3 separate regions of the Homo sapiens genome follow, and all the other regions are reported to be linked to region 2. Evidence: microRNA targets listed by miRTarBase, many of them from high-throughput screens and not tested one by one. Region 2 holds a microRNA gene; each other region holds the end of a gene's coding sequence.
Evidence for each region. Region 2 holds the annotated microRNA hsa-miR-1180-3p (UUUCCGGCUCGCGUGGGUGUGU, at 2,191-2,212, opposite strand). A microRNA usually pairs through its seed, bases 2 to 8, with sites in the 3' UTR of a target mRNA and lowers its output. Matches are read on the target gene's strand: a 7mer-m8 pairs with bases 2 to 8, a 7mer-A1 pairs with bases 2 to 7 and ends in A, and an 8mer does both.

Region 1 (4,155 bases), not on the chromosome of region 2:
GGGCTCCCGCTCCCGGAGCAAGAGCCGGAGCCGGAGCCAGAGTCGGAGCCGGAGCAAGAAAGAGAAAAGCAGGAGCCCCAGCAAGGAAAAGAGCCGCAGCCGCAGCCATAGCGCTGGCAAGAGCCGCAGCAAGAGCAAAGACCAAGCTGAAGAGAAGATCCAAAACAATGACAATGTCGGGAAACCCAAGAGCCGGAGTCCTAGCAGGCATAAAAGTAAGAGCAAAAGTCGGAGCAGGAGTCAGGAGAGGAGAGTGGAGGAGGAGAAGCGAGGGAGTGTGAGCAGGGGCAGGAGCCAGGAGAAGAGCCTCCGCCAGAGTCGGAGCCGGAGCAGGAGCAAAGGGGGCAGCAGGAGCCGGAGCAGGAGCCGCAGCAAGAGCAAGGACAAGAGGAAGGGCAGGAAGAGAAGCAGAGAGGAGAGCCGCAGTCGCAGTCGCAGCCGCAGCAAGAGTGAGAGGAGCAGAAAGCGAGGCAGCAAGCGAGACAGCAAGGCGGGCAGCAGCAAGAAGAAGAAGAAGGAAGACACTGACCGCTCCCAGTCCAGATCTCCATCCCGCTCCGTGTCAAAGGAGCGGGAACATGCCAAGTCTGAATCCAGCCAGAGGGAAGGTCGAGGAGAGAGTGAGAATGCTGGCACCAATCAGGAGACCCGGTCCAGGTCGAGATCCAATTCCAAATCGAAACCAAACCTTCCATCAGAATCACGCTCCAGATCAAAGTCAGCTTCAAAAACCCGATCTCGGTCCAAGTCTAGATCCAGGTCTGCTTCCAGATCGCCCTCCCGATCTAGATCTAGGTCCCACTCAAGGTCCTAACTGGCTATGGCCACAGCTGGAACTACCCGAGAAGTCTTTTGTACATGTTTGGTAGCCGTAGCACAAGTGATTGGAGTAGAACATGTCACTGCTGTACATTTTTAACTCCCCTAATGGTGTGTCTATAATTGTTAAATCTAAGTGCTTCCTCTCAGTAAAGCCTCCTGGCACCAGGCCTTCCTGCTCGACTGAAAAAAATTTTCTCTTTGAAAATCCCCTTTTACTCATGGCCCACAGTAGAATATCCAAAACGCCTTGGCTTTCAGGCCTGGCCTTTCCTACAGGGAGCTCAGTAACCTGGACGGCTCTAAGGCTGGAATGACCACATAGGTAGGTATGGTGAGTTCAACCATTTTTGCTCTTGAATTGATGCCCTTCGATGTATGCCATTTAGTGAAAGTGCTAAGTCTTAAGTTTCCTACCACTTTGGTTTCATATTTTTGGACTTAACAAAGTTGTGAATAGCACAGTCGAGGAAAATTGATACCTGCAGTAACCCATAGGAAATAAACTGTAGAGTTCCATATTCTGGTATTGTGATTATATTGTTTTATATTAAAAAAGAAAAGAAAAGAATTTTTTTTAATTTTATTTTTCCCCGTCTTGCAAAGTATAGTGACCCCTGTTTCCATTAAATTTGAATAAAGACTATTTTTGCTTGACAAAATTTCATGGTGTTTGAATTGAAGTTGTACTTTCTGATATATCTTGATATGTCTTTTCTTAGCATAAAAAGTTCATGTGTAGGCCGGGCACGGTGGCTCACGCCCGTAATCCCAACAGTTTGTGAGGCTTAGGCAGACGGATCACAATGTCAGGAGTTCGAGACCAGCCTGACCAACATGGTGAAACCCCGTCTCTACTGAAAATACAAAAATTAGCCAGGCATGGTGGTACACGCCAGTAATCCCAGCTACTCAGGAGAATGAGGCAGGAGAATCGCTTGAACCCCGAGGGGTGGAGGTTACAGTGAGCTGAGATCACGCCACTGTACTCCAGCCTGGGCGACAGAGCGAGACTCCGTCTCAAAAAAAAAAAAAAAAAAAGTTCATGTGTAATGACTGTTTTGTTCCTTGGGATCACCCATCTTAGGGAACCAACACGTTCCTAAAGGATTTTTCTCACCAACAGAATAAAGGCAGGTTTCCGAGGAATTTATCATCCTTTCTCTTAAGAAACGTATGGCCAGGCTGATGAAGAATGAATCAGTTTGGAAACTTGGAGCATTACCAGATGAGTTGTTCATGAATATAGAGTTCTGTGCTGTTTGTCGAAATTGCCATGAATCTGCGGTATCATGATCTCATCACATTAAGATCTGAACTAATCAAAAACCAGGGGGAAAAAACTATACTGGACTTTTTTTTTTTTTTTTTTCCTGAGACAGTTTTGCTCTTGTTGCCCAGGCTGGAGTGCAGTGGTGCAGTCTCAGCTCACTACAGTCTCCACCAACCAGGTTCAAGTGATTCTCCTGTCAGCCTCCCAAGTAGTTGGGATCATAGGTACATGCCACCACTTCCGGCTAATTTTTGTATTTTTAGTAGAGACGGGGTTTCATCATATTGGTCAGGCTGGTCTCGAACTCCTGACCTGAGGTGATCTGCCCACCTCAGCCTCCCAAAGTGTTGGGATTACGGACATGAGCCACCGCGCCTGGCCTACTGGATAACTTTTGTCCTAATTATTCTTCCACTGCTTGTTTGGCCTAGCTCTCTAGGAGGTACCAGAAGTACAGTGGTTCCAATCTGGTCTCAGCCCTTGAGGGACTGTTGAGGGGCATCACAGCAGGGAGGATGCTTGAGGGCTTTCATTACATGCTGCAGCAAAATCTTGGGAAAGGAGATTCACTTGACTGCTGCCTGTGAATTTGTTGGGGGCTGTCCCTAGGCTTAAAACAACTGTCCTGTTGCTTCCTATAGACCAAAATCTTCGAATGCATTGGAAATACGAAAGTAGAGTGTCTCTTGCCCTCCTGGAGTTTGTGATCTAGTTGCTAGTGATGAAGGCAAAGTGGATATTCAGAGAACAGAGTCAGAACTTCATCTGGGATCAGAGGTAGCACTTAAGCTGAACCTTTTGGGGATGTAGGGTGGGACGCATTCCTATTGAAAGCCTGTGAGCATGGCTTTCATGGAGTTGGGAAAGCACAGGGTACTGTGCCCAGGAAACGTGGAGTTTGATACTGGAGAGTTAGAGTTTAACAAAATGGATTGTGTCATAGAGGGCCATGGATACCAGGAAGAGGAATTTGACCTTTATCCTGTAAGCACTGGGTAACATTGAAGGTATTTGAATAGGAGGGTGCGGGGAGTAGGGTTATGCTTCTAGACCTGACAGCATTGTGAAGGATTGGATGCAGGGAACCCAATAGTTCAGGGCATGCAACCCCAGATGATACGGGGCCTGCTTGATCAAAGCCATGATAGGAGGGAGCAGAAGAGGCAAGATTAGCAAGACTTGGCAAATGTCCTGGCAAAGGAGCTATCGGAAGCAGTCACAGAATGATGAGGCATCATCTGAGGAATGGGGAAGATGACAGGGGAAATTAGTTGAGTTTTGAAAACGTGTAATTTCAGAAACAGACGAGGCAGCCAAACCAAGGAACCTCACTCAGTTTCTGGAGAGTTTCCCAAACCTTTTTCTGGGCCCATTCTCGTGTCATCATGACAAGGTGATGAACCTAACCAGTAAAATTCCCACTGCCTCAGAGGATCTCATGCTGGTCTCCAGTGATGACGATAATTTATTATTCCGATTTTATCCCTATAAGGATAGGGATGTTTGTTGCGGCATTTTGTTTCTTTCAGGTTTTTTTTGTTTGTTTTGTTTTGAGATGGAGTCTGGCACTGTCACCAGGCTGGAGTGCAGTGGCACGATCTCAGCTCACTGCAACCTCTGCCTCCTGGGATCAAGCGACTCTCCTGTCAGCCTCCTGAGTAGCTGGGACTACAGGCACGTGCCACCACGCCCAGCTAATTTTTGTATTTTTAGTAGAGATGGGGTTTCACCATTGTTGGACAGGCAGATCTCGATCTCTTGACCTCGTGATCTGCCCGCCTCAGCCTCCCAAAGTGCTGGGATTACAGGCATGAGCCACCGCGCCCGGCACGCCCGGCTAATTTTTGTACTTTTAGTAGAGACAGGGTTTCACCATGTTGGTCAGGCTGGTCGCGAACTCCTGACCTGGTGATCTGCCTGCCTCGGCCTCCCAAAGTGTTGGGATTACAGGCGTGAGCAGCCGCATCAGGCATGTTTATGTAATTTAATAAACTTGCCAGGCCCGGTGTCTCACACCTGTAATCCCAGCACTTTGGGAGGCCGAGGCAGGCGGATCAGGAGGT
Region 2 (4,155 bases):
AAAGGCAGAAGAGGGTCGGCCCAGATGGTCTCAGGGCAAGTGCCATGACGACAGTCCAGGGCAACATGGGCGAGGCTGGGAGGTGGGGGTTTGCCAGGAGCCTGTGGTTTCTCTTGGATCCCGCTGAGGGCAGTATCTAGGCTGGGGCACCATGTCTGCCGAAAGCTCAGTGGCAGGGCAGAGAGGGCCTGGGGCTGCCTCGTGAGGTGCGAGGGGTTCTTGTGAAGGTGGGGAGGCCCAGGGTCAGGGCCTCCCAAAGTAATGCTGAAGGGGCTCTGCTTCCAGAAGGGCCTGGACAACCTCAGAGGTCAGGGTGTTGAGCCAGGGGGCTCACCTTCCTCTCCTGCCAAGGGGCTGCCAGAAAGCTGGACCCCAGCCAGCGGCCTCCCACCTCTGAGAGGTTTCCAGCCCCCATCCTTGGACTGTGGGTAGGGGGGCAGAGAGGGGAGTGGGCAGGCTGAGGGTCTGCCATCCCCCGGGGTACCTCACCATTCCAGCTCCCAATAACAGGGTTCTGTCCTTGCCAAGGGAGGCTGGTGGCCAGAAGCATGGCTGAACGGGTGATTCTACTTAACCCCAAGCCTCTAAGGAGGGTGCCATGCCCAGTTAGTTCAAGGAACAATGTGTTGCGGTATAGAAAAGGCCACACAGCTTTGAGTGGCAGAACCTGGTTATGTCAAAGCTCCCATCCCACATGCCATCCTGCTGCACGGTCTGGTCTCCTGGCAGCTTCCACGGCACAAGGGGTAGGGACAGGGAGAGCCCTGGAGGTGGGGCCAGGAAAGGCCCAAGAGCCCCCAGCTCCTGTGGGGGAGGGGCTAAACAGGAGAGAAGGCAGCCCCAGGCCTAGGCTCTCTGAAAATGAGACTTTATTATACAAAACTATTCTGTGTGCCCCCAGCTCTGGCCACCAGGCTGCCCCTCAGGCCGATGGGCAGCGGCTGACTTCGGGAAGGCAGCCCTTCATTATCAGAGACTGTGCAGCCTGTGGAGCCTTCACTGGGGGAAGCTCTGGGGTGGGCTGGGCCCCAACACACCCTGTGTATCAGAAGGCCCAGTGTCATAGCCCAGTTTCCTCATGTCCTTGGTCACCACGTTGAAGAGGAGGGTGACAAAGCCCTGAGAACGGACACGGGTCACTGGGGACAGAAGGGCAGCATCAGCCAGGCTGGGCTGGGGCAGAGAGAGACCCAGGTTGATCTGGGAATCTCAGCCTCAGCGTTCTCATCTGTAAAATGGGGACAACAGTGCCTGACCCAAGCCCCTCACTGGGAGGTAAAGGGGCTGCCGGGACAGGCAGACATGACAAACCCTCTGTGCTCCAACCAGGCCCTCATCTGGGAACATTTGTGGGCTAGCTCCTATGTGCCTGGCAGGTCCCCGGCATTCACCCCAACCCTGGGCCCACCCACTCCCAGGCTGTAACCTGTATGGGGGATGGGGGTAAGAGAGGGGAGGGAGCTTTACCTTCCCGGCCTTCACCCTGAGCCACCACCTTGGGGTCTGTGTACTCGGGCCGCCGCCCCATGAACCAGCTGGGAACACAGAAGAACACAGGTGAGCAGGGCCCCACCTGGGCATTCCTGGTCTTGGACGACACTGGATGTGGGCTCTCCTCGGTTCAGAAACCAGCACTCTTGTTCCAACCGCACCCCACCCCCACCAGGAGTCAGGCCCTAAGCAGAGCCTTCCCAGTGGCTGGGCTCCAGCGTGGGGTGTCCCTTGCCGAGGTCACACAGCCTAGCCAGGCCTCATGTGCTCTGCAGCCACGCTGCCTCCGCTGGCCGGTTAGGCTTTTCCATCTCTGGCTTCCATGGGTTTGGTTCACTGGGAATGAGAGCTCAGGAAGATTCTGGGGTGGGGGTGCTACCTGAACCCCCAGAAATCCCAGAAAAGTGACAGCAGCTGAGGTGGGGGAGGGGAGGGGACAGTGTGACCCTCCAGCCTCCCTGGAAGGGGGTCCCACCCCAGAGAGTCTGTGGGGTGGGCAGAAGGGCCAGAACGGCTCCTCAGCCTTACCTCCCACTAGTGTGGGGTCCAGGACATGTCACTTCCCATCTTGGCACCCACCGCAGGCCCTGCCAGGGGCGGCACACAGCCACCAGGCTGAGCATGCGCCCTCCCCAGCCCCAGACCCCAGTTGGGCCAGGCGGGAGGCCAGGAGGCCGGGGGTGTCAGGCCCCGCCGCCGACACACCCACGCGAGCCGGAAACAACCAGGAGCACTATTCCCGGCCGGGTGGGTCCAGCAGCCGCGGGCTTCGCCCCGCCGGGACTCGCGGCCGCGCCTCCTCTGTACCACAGCTCCCAAGGTCCCCCCACGGACACACCCGGCCCCGAGGGTCGCTGGCAACCATGCCGACCCAAAAGCCCACGCACCGCCCTCCCCGCGGCCTCTCCGTCTCTGAGGTGGGCACCAGCGCTCACCTGGGGCGGCTGCAGAGGGGCCCAGGCCAGGGAGGGGCTCTCAGCTGCCGCAGAGTTGGCCTGTGGAGACCACAGCCAGGGAGCACTGCCCACCAGCCCCCAACCCCAAGGAGGGAGCCAGAGAGTGAAAGCCAGCAGGCGCTCCCCAAGGGGAAGGGATGGGCAGCCACAACCCCTGCGCCTCAGTTTCTCCTTTGGGAGAGCAAGACTCTCACAGCACCCACCTCACAAGAGGCTATGTATGAGGACTGGGGCCTGGGAGCATCCCCACTGTGCCCAGCAGATCCCATCCCGGAGCTCACATGGAGCTCCCGTTCCCACTGAATTTCTTTCCTGGGGTCCACCCGGGTGGTCTGCTTAGCTGGCTGGGGTTGGGGAGACAAGACAGGCTGTTCTGGGAGAGCATTCCAGGCAAGGACCTGAGGCAAGGAAGGACCCCTCAGACTGCAGGAACTGAGGTAGATGGGAAGCAAGTGGGCAGAGGCCATGAGGTAGGCAGGGCCCGACCACCGGCCTGGCAGCATTCTGGTTGAAGTTCATTCTGACAGAGACAGGTTCTAGCAGGGGAGGGGTGCAGCCCCAGTTGTGTTTTAGGAACACCGTTTTTCTTGCTATGTGAAGACTAGACTGGAGGGGTGGCAGCAGGCTGAATGACGGCCCCTCAAAGATAGCAGATCCTAGTCCTGGGAAACCGTGCACGTGACCTTATTGAGAAACAGGGTCACGTGCACTTTGCACAGATATGATTAGGCTAAGGATCTTGAGGCGACTATCCAGGTGGACCCTAAAGGCCAGGACTCGAGTGATGAGGCCACAAGCCAAGGAAGGCTGGGGCCACCAGAAACTGAAAGGGCAATAAACAGAGTCTCCCCTAGAGCCTTGGGAGGGAGCACAGCCCTGTGGTGCCTTTTCTGGGCCCAGTGACCTGGATTTTGAACTCTGGCCTTCAGCATACATTTCTGCTGTTTTCAGCTATCACATTTGTGTGTTTTGTTGCAGCAGCCACCGTGGGAAACGAATACAGTGGCCAAGAGTGTTTGGGGCAGGCCCTAGGCCAGCGCTGGAGGATGTGGGGAGAGGCTGGGAGAGGGGTGGGGATGACCGAGGTGTCAGCCTGAGCAAGGAGCCTCCATATCTGGGAAGATTCTGCCAATCAAACTGCCTTCACTAATCAGAACTTTCTCCAGTTTTTGTAATCCAAGCACATACTGCCTTGCCCAGTTGCGAGCCCCTCCACAGGGGCTGTGAAACCCTTTCCTCAGCGAGCTGTCCCCTGGAGGCCCAAAGTCCTCCTTGGAGCTGTGGGCGGTGGAACAGGGTGAATAACCCAGCCTGGATGGCTGTGTGGGTCCCCAGTCTCTTAGGCTTTCCCAACCCACTGATGGGCACTGCCTCGCTGCCTCCCTGACAGCCTGTGGCATGGGGATTGTCACCTCCAGGTGATACTGGCCCAGGTCATCTGGGAAAGAAGTCCTTTGCTACAGGGTGGCCTCCCAGAAGGACTCCTAGGGGCAGTAGGCACACAAATTCTCAGGCTGAGGCCAGCGGAGACCCTGCCCTTCCTCCCCTCCACGGCTCTCAGAGCTCAGTGAAGCATTCTCGGCCCTGGGCGCGATGCTGTCCCTCCACCCAGCAGGGCTCTGGCCTGGTCTCACGCCCAGTACTGGCCAGGCTCGCAGGGGCTGCTTGCCGGCTGCTGCCCTGGAACCCAGGGAGTCCTCCATGTTCC
Region 3 (4,155 bases), not on the chromosome of region 2:
TTCACCAAGCTCACACCATTCATGCTTGGAGCCTTGGTCGGTGAGTGAGTAGGGGAAAGGTCCTGGCTTGGGGTAGGTTGGAATGGGCTTGTGGAGCCCTGATGTGCCCTGTCTGTCACTTCTGCAGCCATGTATGAGCACAAGATCTTCGTTCAGGGCATCATCTGGGACATCAACAGCTTTGACCAGTGGGGGTGAGTTGCTCACTTAGGGGAGGGCCGGGAATACCTTTGTGTCGGCTCAGGGATTTCAGTAGCAACGTTAGAGCCTTCCTCATACCACTCTTCCCTTCCCTTCCCTTCTTGGCAGAGTGGAGCTGGGAAAGCAGCTGGCTAAGAAAATAGAGCCTGAGCTTGATGGCAGTGCTCAAGTGACCTCTCACGACGCTTCTACCAATGGGCTCATCAACTTCATCAAGCAGCAGCGCGAGGCCAGAGTCCAATAAACTCGTGCTCATCTGCAGCCTCCTCTGTGACTCCCCTTTCTCTTCTCGTCCCTCCTCCCCGGAGCCGGCACTGCATGTTCCTGGACACCACCCAGAGCACCCTCTGGTTGTGGGCTTGGACCACGAGCCCTTAGCAGGGAAGGCTGGTCTCCCCCAGCCTAACCCCCAGCCCCTCCATGTCTATGCTCCCTCTGTGTTAGAATTGGCTGAAGTGTTTTTGTGCAGCTGACTTTTCTGACCCATGTTCACGTTGTTCACATCCCATGTAGAAAAATAAAGATGCCACGGAGGAGGTTGTAGGCTCAGCCTCTGATTTTTTTTTTCCTGTGATGGTGCTTTATGTAGCAGAGGGCAGGAGCGCTCAGCAGGACGCAGGCTGTGCCTCTGCGGACACTTAACACTAAGTGGTGAGCGGGTCTAGAGTGGAGCAAGGTGCCCTGAGAAGACAATAGTGGGGTGGGGGCACAATCAGTCAGGACGGCAACTTGGCCTGTGTCACCAAATCCCAAGACTGTTTTCCACTCCTCACCTCTGTGACTGCAGAAATTGGATACTCTGTTCACTCGATGGTTCTAAAAACTGCATTGAGATTATGTTTGTTTCGGGTGAATTCCTGGACAAGACCGAGGATGACTGCCATCTCCTGGCAAGACGCTCAGGTAGTTCTTTTGCTTTAAAAGGCAGATATTGAAAACTGGAATTTTTTTTTTTTGAGTCTCGCTCTGTCACCCAGACTGGAGTGCAGTGGTGCAATCTCGGCTCACTGCAACCTCCGCCTCCCGGGTTCAAGCTATTCTCCTGCCTCAGCCTCCCGAGTAGCTGGGATTACACGGCGCACACCACCATACCCAGCTAATTTTTGTATTTTTAGTAGTGAAGGGGTTTTACCATGTTGGGCAGGCTGGTCTTGAACTCCTGACCTCAGGTGATCTGCCCGCCTCAGCCTCCCACAGTGCTGGGATTACAGGTATGAGCCACCACGCCCGGCCCATTTTTTTTTTTTTTTTGACAACTTTTTTTTTTTTTTGAGACAGGGTCTTGTTCCATTGCCCAGACTGGAGTGCAGTGGCATGATCACAGCTCACTGCAGCCAGTAATCCTCTTGCCTCAGCCTCCCAAGTAGTTGAGACTACAGGTTGTACCACTATGCCCTGCTAGTTTTTTCATTTTTTGTAGAGAGACGGGTCTTTTTTTTTTTTGAGACGGAGTCTCGCTCTGTCGCCCAAGCTGGAGTGCAGTAGCACGGTCTCAGCTCATTGCAAGCTCCGCCTCCCAGGTTCACGCCATTCTCCTGCCTCAGACTCCTGTGTAGCTGGGAGTACAGGCACCTGCCACCATGCCCGGCTAATTTTTTATATATTTTTTTAGCAGAGACAGTGTCTCACTGTGTTAGTCAGGATGGTCTCGATCTCCTGACCTCGTGATCCGCCCGCCTCAGCCTCCCAAAGTGCTGGGATTACAGGCGTGAGCCACCGCGCCCAGCAAGGCGGGTCTTGCTGTGTTTCCCAGACTAGACTGGTCTTGAATTCCAGGGCTCAAGAGATCTCCCACCTCAGCCTCCCACAGTGCTGGGATTACAGGCGTGAGCCGCCACACCCAGCCTATTCAAAATTTTTTTTTCTTAGAGACAGGGTCTTTGTTGCCCAGGCTGGACTGCAGTGATACAATCATAGCTGACTGAAGCCTCAAATTCCCAGGCTAAGGTGATCTTCTCACCTCAGCCTTCCAAGTAGCTGGGTCCGCAGATGCATGCCAGTACACCCAGCTCATTTAAAAAAAAATTTTTTTCTTTTTTGAGAGTCTTGCTTTGTTGCCCAGGCTGGAGTGCAGTGGTGTGATCTCGGCTCACTGCAAGCTCCACCTCCCGGCTTCACGCCATTCTCCTGCCTCAGCCTCCCGAGTAGCTGGGACTACAGGTGCCCGCCACCACACCCGGCTAATTTTTTGTATTTTTAGTAGAGACGGGGTTTCACCGTGTTAGCCAGGATGGTCTTGATCTCCTGACCTCATGATCCGCCTGCTTTGGCCTCCCAAAGTGCTGGGATTACAGGCGTGAGTCACCGCGCCCGGCTCATTTTAAAATTTTTGTAGATCAGTGTACTGTTGTAAAAAAAAAAAAATAAGAAAAATAAAAAATAAATTTTTGTAGTGATAGGATCCCACTGAGGCCAGAGAATAGGGTCTGGAGACAAAGGAGCATTCACTTCAGCCTCTGACTGGTGGCAGGCCAAGTCTTTATTTACATAGGGTGTAACCAAATAGGAAACCTCTAAAGGGTACTTAAACCCCAGATTTTCTACACAGGGCACTTGCTTGAGCCTCATCCCGCTTTCTGGAATGTACTTTTGCTTCAATAAATCTGTGCTTTTGTTCCTTCTTTTGTTGCTTTGTGTGTTTTGTCCACCTCTTTGTTCAATATTCCAAGAACCTGGACGACTTGTAGTCAAGATCCTCCCCTGGTAATACTACTGTGTTGCCCAGGCTTATCTTCAACTCCTGGGCTTAAGAGATCCTCCTGCCTTGGCCTCCGAAAGTGTTGGGATTACAGGCGCAAGCCACTGTGCCCAGCATCACAGGGCCTTTTAAAGCTATCAGGATGAAGTGTGGTAAAAAAAGGAGTAAATGGGTTTCATCTCCAGATCCTTGCTGGGCTAGAGCCAAACCTCACAAAGGCTGGTGCTTCCTCCTTTGAGGTGTAAATCCTTGAAAACATTCATTTCTTTTGCATACCACGTTATGAATCCTAAAATAATGTTTTTGCAGCCTGCATTTTTAAAAAGTCAGGTTTATTGGGGTGTGATTTACATATAGTAAGATTCACCTTTCTTTGGTATACAGTTATGAGTTTTCACAAGTGTATATACAGTCTTAGAACCATTACAGATGAGATATACAGCATTTTCCTCACCCTCAAAAGTTCCTGACACTTGTGGTCCAGTCCTACTCCCTCATCCCAACTCCTGACTACCATTGAACTGATTTTTTTCCCTCCGAAGTTCTGCGTTTACCAGAATGGCGCCTTTTGTGTCTGGCTTCTTCCCATGATGCTTTTGAAATTCACCCATGTTGTGCTGCAGGAATTGAAAAAACTGTATTGTGTGGCTGGGCGCGGTGGCTCACACCTGTAATACTAACACTTTGGGAGGCCGAGGTGGGCAGATCACTTGATTTCAGGAGCTCGAAACCAGCCTGGCCAACATGGTGAAACCCCGTCTCTACTAAAAATACAAAAAAGGCCGGGCATGGTGGCTCACGCCTGTAATCCCAGCACTTTGGGAGGCCAAGGTGGGCGGATCACCTGAGGTTGGGAGTTCGAGACCAGCCTGACCAACATGGAGAAACCCCATCTCTATTAAAAATACAAAATTAGCCAGGCATGGTGGCACATGCCTGTAATCTCAGCTACTCGGGAGGCTAAGGCAGAAGAATCGCTTGAACCTGGGAGGCAGAGGTTGCAGTGAGCTGGGATCACGCCAGTGCACTCCAGCCTGGGCGACAAGAGCGAAACTCCGTCTAAAAAAAAAAAAAAAAAAAAAGCCGGGCGCCGGGCGTGGTGGTGGGCGTCTGTAACCCCAGCTACTGGGTGGGGCTGAGGCAGGAGAATCACTTGAACCTGGGAGGCTGAGATGCAGTGAGATGGCGCCACTGCACTTCAGCCTGGGCGACCCAGCAAGACTCTGTCTCAAAAACAAAACAAAACAAAACAAAAA

Region 1: miRTarBase lists SRSF4 as a target of hsa-miR-1180-3p. The part of its 3' UTR that is shown has no 7-base or 8-base seed match.
Region 3: the mRNA of GPI is a reported target of hsa-miR-1180-3p. The part of its 3' UTR that is shown has no 7-base or 8-base seed match.

Annotation. Positions count from the first base shown.
Region 1 is chr1:29,145,069-29,149,223 of GRCh38, reverse strand. It overlaps SRSF4 (serine and arginine rich splicing factor 4), which reads left to right. Exons shown (of 6, transcript NM_005626.5): 6 at 1-1,481. The coding sequence ends at 814. Among named protein-coding and RNA genes, the nearest start is that of TMEM200B, 23 kb to the right of the region's middle.
Region 2 is chr17:19,342,323-19,346,477 of GRCh38, forward strand. It overlaps MIR1180 (microRNA 1180), which reads right to left and starts at 2,252; the gene lies at 2,184-2,252. It overlaps B9D1 (B9 domain containing 1), which reads right to left. Exons shown (of 7, transcript NM_015681.6): 6 at 1,468-1,535; 7 at 853-1,139. The coding sequence ends at 997. RefSeq lists a silencer at 3,274-3,568 and an enhancer at 3,274-3,568.
Region 3 is chr19:34,399,592-34,403,746 of GRCh38, forward strand. GPI (glucose-6-phosphate isomerase) reads left to right here. Exons shown (of 18, transcript NM_000175.5): 16 at 1-40; 17 at 128-194; 18 at 310-2,822. The coding sequence ends at 445. Among named protein-coding and RNA genes, the nearest start is that of PDCD2L, 2.7 kb to the right of the region's middle.